Linked DNA regions of Homo sapiens. The protein of the gene in region 2 purifies or fractionates together with the protein of the main gene of each other region. This does not show direct contact. Each region holds a gene or a part of one and is shown on either strand. Other genes may lie near its edges.

Region 1 (3,931 bases), on a different chromosome or scaffold from region 2:
ATTTTTAATGGGGTTCCAGTTGGCCTATGCATTTATGCCCAGGCTCCCTGCCATTGTCTGTTTTGAGTTAAATACCCATTTTTAAAAGTAAAAGTCACCTGCAGTCGAGGCTAAACTCATGCAGCAGCATCCTTAATACTGTCAATGTGTCAATTCCTTTGAGATAATTATATGACCAGAGAAATGAAACTATGATACTATCTCTACTATACTTTGTCACAGGGAGATTACAGGGATCTAATGAAGGAGTTCCTTTTTACTGGAAACCCCAGAAGAGCAGGTATTAACAATTAATATATTTGATAATGCCCCCCAAAATTAGAACCCTTATTACTAAGGCAACTCAATGACCCATTCAGGACTCTAACAGGAATCATCTTTGTGATGTGAAATTAGAAACTTTTAAGAGAACAAAAGCAATCAAGAAAAACAGTACTAGAATGACAGATAGGACAAAATTTATAAACAAAATACAAGAGAAAAAGCACCTGATAAGATCCTTTAATGACAACTTCAAAGCAGTGTTTCATATTCTCTTACAAAATAGTGCCATCCATCTCCAAGTTTTGCCAAGTGTCATGTAAAACTGTGTTCAATGGTAGACTATAAAAGCATCTACATTTCTTTGCCAGAGGGTTTTGGAATAATTATCTGCTGATGCTTCAACTGAAAGTTTATTAATATGATCAATGATTCCTATAATTAAGCACTAGAAAGACTGTTTCCACAATTTAATGGATTAAACAACTGGACATCCCAGCTAATTTCAATATCACATTTGAAGATGGTGACTGCTCCCTCTTGGATTCATTAACACTACTTTATTACCACCTCCTGTTTTTCCTCCCTTTCCTGTTTACTACTCTACCTTCCAGGTTCCTCTTTTCCCAATTCTTTAATATTTCTTAGGATTCCCTAACATTTGCTCCTTAGTTTCATTCTCTCCCTTTATATTCTAAAAATTCCCATTCATATACATATTTCAGTTTTCATCATCTAAACAACTCCTAGTTCCTTGCTTCTAGCTCTAAGCTCTAAAATCACATTCCTGGCTTTTTACTTACTAGACATCGCCACCCAAATACCAAAAATGCAATTTAAGGCAATGTACCCAAAACCATATTCATCTTCCCCTCTGAACGTTCTGCTTCTCCTAAGAGCTACTTCTATATTCAATTGTAAAAGTGAGAACCTTGTGAGACATCACAGACTTCTCTATGCTCGCTCCTCCCATAAATTAAGGAGAAAGTTTGATCTCTTTCACATGGCAAGAGGAGCTTCACCTTACCGTCTCTACTTGCTCTTTCAGCTTCTCCTTCACTTCCCTAGAATGTCTCTTACACTTAACTCCCACTCTATGAACACACTATGCACTTTTCCTTTACTTCAGCTAAATTATCTTCCTTACCTTCCTCAACTGCATATTCCTACTTTATCTCTGACTCAACCCAAGCATCTCCCCTTGGACCCTGAGAATTTTTTCAACATTGTATTTAATGATAGAAACCAAATAAACTGGCTTAATACTAGAGACAAAATACTTGTATTACAGCTCACAATCTAGTAGTCCAAATAAGACTACAGATCATTACAAGTAGCTTGATAAGTATCCGGATGAAATAATGGCAAGGTGTCATAGCAGCTGAGGAGGCGTGCACAATTGTTATGATTATTCCCGGTATCAGTTTTCCTTGGACTGAGCCTTGTAGATAAGTAGGAATTGGTCAGATGGAAAAGTTAGGTCAGAGGAAGGCATGCGATATTAGGGTACGTTCTGCTACCTGGTAATACAGCACAGCACACTGGAGAAATGAGGGGCATGGGGAGGCTAGAGGAGGAGAGATTACATTACAAAGACCCCATAAAGAAAAGAGAACCAGCGGCCATGTGGGGGATACATGAGAGAGGCCAGAGCAGAAACAAAGAGACAATTAGGAGGCACTGCAGTATGCCAAGCAAGTAATGATGGCCTAAAAAGCAGTGACAGCTGAGAGCAGGATACAGAAGATACTTATCCTTGTTCCAGATACAAAGTAAGGCGCATCTTCAGAACAAGTCTAAGAGATAGATGTTCCTATTTTTACACAAGAAGAAATTTGAGCTCTGAAGGATGTTACTTGCTCAAGATGACACAGCTAACAAGTGGAAGAGCAGGGATTCAAACTTCAGAGATTTTGCTCCTAGGTAGTATGATGAGCCAGTATCTCCAAATGCGTGTCCAATTATAAACCAACAGATCATGTTTTCACAATTAATTCTGGTCTGTTCAACTTAGAAATAATTCCAAAATAAAATTCCTCTTCCCATAGAGAAGCATAGCAAGCACGAAGGAAAAATACTCTAGCAGTTTTAACATTGCATATCCTTAAGATTTTAATATTCCAAGCTGTGTACAATTTTAGTACATTCAAATTCTAAAGGTTATCTCTTTATCTTATAGTTCTCTAATTACACATTCTCCAACTAATAATTTTACATGGACCACAAAGTTTAAAAGCGATCTTATTAGCCTACAAATCTCCACTGTCCTCTTATTCCTATAGTGCTGAGCATGTTAAAAAAAAAAAAAAACCTTATTGATCAAAAATAAAACTTGAATTTTGAAACATGCTTAAAATGACATCAGTAGTCTTCCTTAAGAAGTATAGGCTTAACTGGGGAATAGTCAATATTTTAAAATTTATTTACTATATGCATGTTATATATACTTGCTTTATGTGTATTATAAAGCATAATCTATATTTACAAAACTGTAAAATACACACCTCTAATAATGAGTTTTAAAGCTAAATGAGCAAAATATTCCTCTAGTTTTTCTTTAGCAGTTCTGTGAATGGATTTTTTTTTTTTTTCTTTTGAGACAGTCTCACTCTGTTGCCCGGGCTAGTGTGCAGTCATGCGATCTTGGCTCACTGCAACCTCCGCCTCCCGGGTTCAAGCGATTCTACTGCCTCAGCCTCCCAAGTAGCTGGGTGTGGCACCTGCCACCATGCCTGGCTAATTTTTTGTATTTTTAGTAGAGACAGGGTTTCTCCATGTTAGCCAGGCTGGTCTCAAACTCCTGACCTCAAGTGATCCAGCCGCCTCGGCCTCCCAAAATGCTGGGATTACAGGCATGAGCCACTGTTCCCAGCTGGATTTCTTACTCTAAGTTACTTATCTTAAAAAAAAAATAGTCTAAGATTACAAATTATCAGTTCCAGAAGAGATATACCTAACACAAAAATTAACCTACTAAATTGAACTATATGAGTATCAATACAAGCAACATGAGTAAGCCTTAAATTTCATGTTTTTAAAGCTTACAAAGGGTGTAACTAATTTATTCAACTCCAACACTTTATTCTTATTACAGAATCAAAGCTTTTAGACATTAAGAGGAACAAGGGAGGATCTGAACTATTTTAGGTTTAAAAGCCCATGATCAGGGATATTAATTGCAGCCATAAATAAACTGCTGAGGCCAAATAAACAACTGCATTCCTATAATCGCTGCCAAAAACACTGCATACATCCTCAAACATTGAGACAAAGGATGGCAGACAGGTTTCAACTCTAATTGTTAAGTGGCTGCCTCCAACAGAATATTGAGACTGGGGAACAATGTGGGGCAGGTTTCAACTCTAATTGTTACGTGGCTGCCTCCAACAGAATATTGAGACTGGGGAACAAAGTGGGGCAGGTTTCAACTCTAATTGTTACGTGGCTGCCTCCAACAGAATATTGAGACTGGGGAACAATGTGGGGCAGGTTTCAACTCTAATTGTTACGTGGCTGCCTCCAACAGAATATTGAGACTGGGGAACAACGTGGGGCAGGTTTCAACTCTAATTGTTATGTGGCTGCCTCCAACAGTATATTGAGACTGGGGAACAACGTGGGGCAGGTTTCAACTCTAATTGTTACGTGGCTGCCTCCAACAGTATATTGA
Region 2 (3,831 bases):
CAACAGTGTATAACAGTTCCCCTTCCTCCACAAGGTCAACAGCACTTGTTATTTTTTGTCATTTTGTTGTTATTGTAGCGATCCTGACTGGAGTGAGGTGATACCTCATTATAGTTCTCACTTGCATTTCCCCGATGATTAGTGATGTTGAGAGAACAATGAAGTCATTTTTTTCATATATTTGTTGGTCATTTGTATGTCTTCTTTTGTGAATTGTCTGTTCAGATCATTTGCCCATTTTTTAAATTGGATTGTTTGTGTTTTTGCTGTTGAGATGTTTGAGTTTCTTGTATATTCTGGATATTAATCCCCTGTCAAATGAATAATGTATTAGTCTGTTCTCAGATTGCTATGAAGATACTACCTGAGACTGGGTAATTTATAAACAAAAGAGGTTTAATTTACTCACAGTTCCACATGGCTGGGGAGGCCTCAGGAGACTTTAAATCATGTCAGAAGGCGAAGGGGAAGCAAGGCACGTCCTACATGGTGGCAGGAGAGAGAGCTCATGCAGGGGAAACTGCACCTTTTAAACAATCATATCTCATGACAACTCCCTCGCTATCATAAGAACAGCATGGGGGAAACTGCCCTTACGATCCAATCACCTCCTGCCAGGTCCCTCACTCCACACATGGGGATTAGAGTTCAAGATGAGATTTGGGTGGAGACACAGAGCCAAACCACATCAAATACTTTGAAAATATTTTCTCTCATTCTGTAGATTGTCTTTTCAATGTGTCGATTGTTTCCTTTGCTGTGCAGCAGCTTTTTAGTTTGATATAATCCAATTTACCTATTTTTGCTTTTGTTGCCCATGGTTGTGAGATCTTATATTAAAAATCTTTTTGTAAGATCATGAAAATGTCCTGAAGTATTTCCCCTGTGTTTTCTTCTAGTAGTTTTACAGTTTCAGGTTTTACCTTTAGATCTTTAATCCATTTTTAGCTGATTTTTGTATAGGGTGAGAGGCGAAGGTCTAATTTCATTATTCTGCATATGGATATCCAGTTTTCCTAGCACCATTTACTGAAGAGACTATCCTTTCCCCAGTGAATGTTCTTGGCATCTTTGTCAAAAAGCAGTTGGCTATCGACGCATGGATTTATTTCTAGGTTCTCTATTCTTTTTTTTTTTTTTTTTTTTTTTTTTGAGACAGAGTCTTGCTCTTGTTGCCCAGGCTGGAGTGCAGTGGCACAATCTTGGCTCACTGCAACCTCTGCCTCCCAGGTTCAAGTGATTCTCCTGCCTCAGCCTCCAGAGTAGAGTAGCTGGGACTACAGGTATGCACCACCATGTTCGTCTAATTTTTGTACTTTTAGTAGAGATGGGGTTTTGCTATGTTGGCCAGGCTGATCTCGAACACCTGACCTCATGTGATCCACCTGCCTCGGTCTCCCAAAGTGCTGGGATTATAGGCATGAGCCACTGCACCTGGCCCTAAGTTCTCTATTCTATTCCATTAGTCTACGTGTCTGTTTTTATGCCAGTGCTATGCTATTTTGGTTACTAGAGCTTGGTAGTATATTTAGAAGTCTTGAAACCTGTTCCCTCCAGCTTTGTTCTTTTTGTTAAGGATTGCTTTGGCTATTCTAGGATGTTTGTGGTTCCATACATATTTTAGGATTTATTTTATATTACTGTGAAGAATGTCACTGGTATTTTAATAGGGATTGCATTGACTCTGTAGATGGTTTAGGGTAGTATGGTAATTTTAACAATATTAACTCCTTCCATCCATGAGCATGGGAAGTTTTTCCATTTGTTTGTATCCTCTTCAATTTCTTTTATCAGTGTTTTGTAGTTTTCAATGTAGAAGTCTTTTATCTCCTTGGTTAAATTTATTCCTAGGTATTTATTTGTAGCTGTTATAAATGGGATTGCCCTCTTGGTCTCTTTTTTTAACTAGTTCATTGTGCATAGAAACACCACTGACTTGTATGTTTATTTTGTATCCTGTAACTTTACTGAATTTCTTTATGAGTTCTACAGGTTTCTTGGTAGAGTCTAAGTTTTTCTCTACATAAGAGCTTGTCTGCAAACAGGGTAAATGTGACTTCCTCTTTTCCAATTTTGATGTCCTTTATTGTTTTCTCTTTCATGATTGATCTAACTAGGACTTCCAGTACTACGTTGAATAAGAGTGGGTAAAGTGAGCAGCATGCTCATGGAGGGGCATGGAGGCTCCCTAGCCTTTCCTCTATATCTTGTTTCAGTTCTTAGAGGAAAAGTTTTCAGCTTTTCACCGTTAAGTATATTGTTAGCTGTGGGTTTGTCATATATGATCTTTATTATGTGGAGGTGCTTTCCTTTCATACATAATTTATTGAAAGTTTTTATCATAAAGTGGTGTTGAATTTTATCAAATGCTTTTTCTGTATCTACTGAGATTACCGTATGGTTTTGTCCCTGATTCTGTTGATGTGAAGTATCACATTTATTGATTTGTGTACATTGAGCCATTCTTGCATTCGTATGATAAATCCCACTTGATCATGCCACATTATCTTTTTGATGTGTTGTTGAATTGGGTTTGTTAGTATTTTGTTGAGGATTTTTGCACCTATTTTCATCAGGAATATTGGCCTGTGGGTTTCTTTATGCTGTCTTGTTATTGTCTGGTTTTGGTATTAAGGTTATGTGGGCCTCATAAAATTGAGCTAAGAAGAATTCCTGCCGCATCAATTTTTTGGAATAGTTTGAGAAGAATTGGTATTAATTTATATTTAAAGGGTCATAGAATTTGGTGGTAAAGCCATATGGTTCTGGACTTTTGTTTCAGGGGAGACTTTTTATTACTGATTCAATCTCCTTACTTGTTATTCGTCTGTTCAGGTTCTTCTGTTTCTTTTTGGTTCAGTGTGGTAGGTTGTATGTGTTCAAGAATTTATCCATTTCCTCTAGGTTTTTGAATTATAAAGGATATCACAAAGGATACAGAGGAAGAGGTGCATAAGGTGAGATATGGGGAAAGGCTAGAGAGCTTCCATGCCCTCCATGAGCATGCTGCTCTCCAACAACCTCTAAGTGTTCAGTGGTAGCCACCTGGAAGCTCTGACTTATATATTTTAATTTGAAATTTCTGTTCAGTTTTGAGTAATTGTCTTTTTTTAGACTAATTTCTAATTATTTCCATTATAGTCTGAAACTATGTCCTTTGTGATGTAATTCTTTAAAATTTTGTTCAGACTTTTTTTATAGCCTAATGTATAGTCACTTTTTGTACATGTTTTATTTGTGCTTGAGAAAAATGTGTTCCTCTAGTTTTTCTATGCAGACTTCTGTATATTTTAATTAAGTCAAGCTTATTAATCATAATGTTCAAATTACCCATCTCTTTACTAAATTTACTACTCTATCAATAATTTGAATGTATAAAGTATAGACCTTCTATATACCCATAAATCTTTCCCCTTATAAATGTCAGTACTTGAGCCTGCCACAATGTTGACTAGACTGCTTTAACAGAAAGCCTCCATCACATAATAACTGAAATACAATATACTTTTTATTTCTTGCTCAAATAATAATTCAAAATGAGTATTCTAAAACAATGGGTATCCTTTTTTCATGTGATAAAAGAAGTCAAGGACCCAGGCTCCTTTCACCTTTTGGCTTCACTAGGCTCTAGAACCTTGTTGTCATCTATACTGAGCTGGTGGAAAAGAAAAAGAGTGTGAAAGAGACTTGCCATCTTCTTAGGGTCTTGACCTAGTAGTGACAAGTCTGTTAGCCAAAATATTTACATTGTGGCACTGGCTGCAAGATGCTTGGGTAAGGAAAATGCAGCTTCTATTTGAGATGATGATTCTCCTCTATATAACCCCTCTT

The links.
Region 1: the proteins of WFDC9 (region 2) and TXNL1 purify together in Homo sapiens (affinity purification with mass spectrometry; one large-scale study listed by BioGRID and IntAct). This does not show direct contact.

The regions. Positions count from the first base shown.
Region 1 is NC_000018.10:56,596,724-56,600,654, forward strand, and holds the end of TXNL1 (thioredoxin-like protein 1), read right to left. Parts: 3' UTR 486-3,931; downstream 1-485. UniProt on the Homo sapiens protein: Active thioredoxin with a redox potential of about -250 mV.
Region 2 is NC_000020.11:45,624,682-45,628,512, forward strand, and holds part of WFDC9 (protein WFDC9 precursor), read right to left. Parts: intron 1-3,831.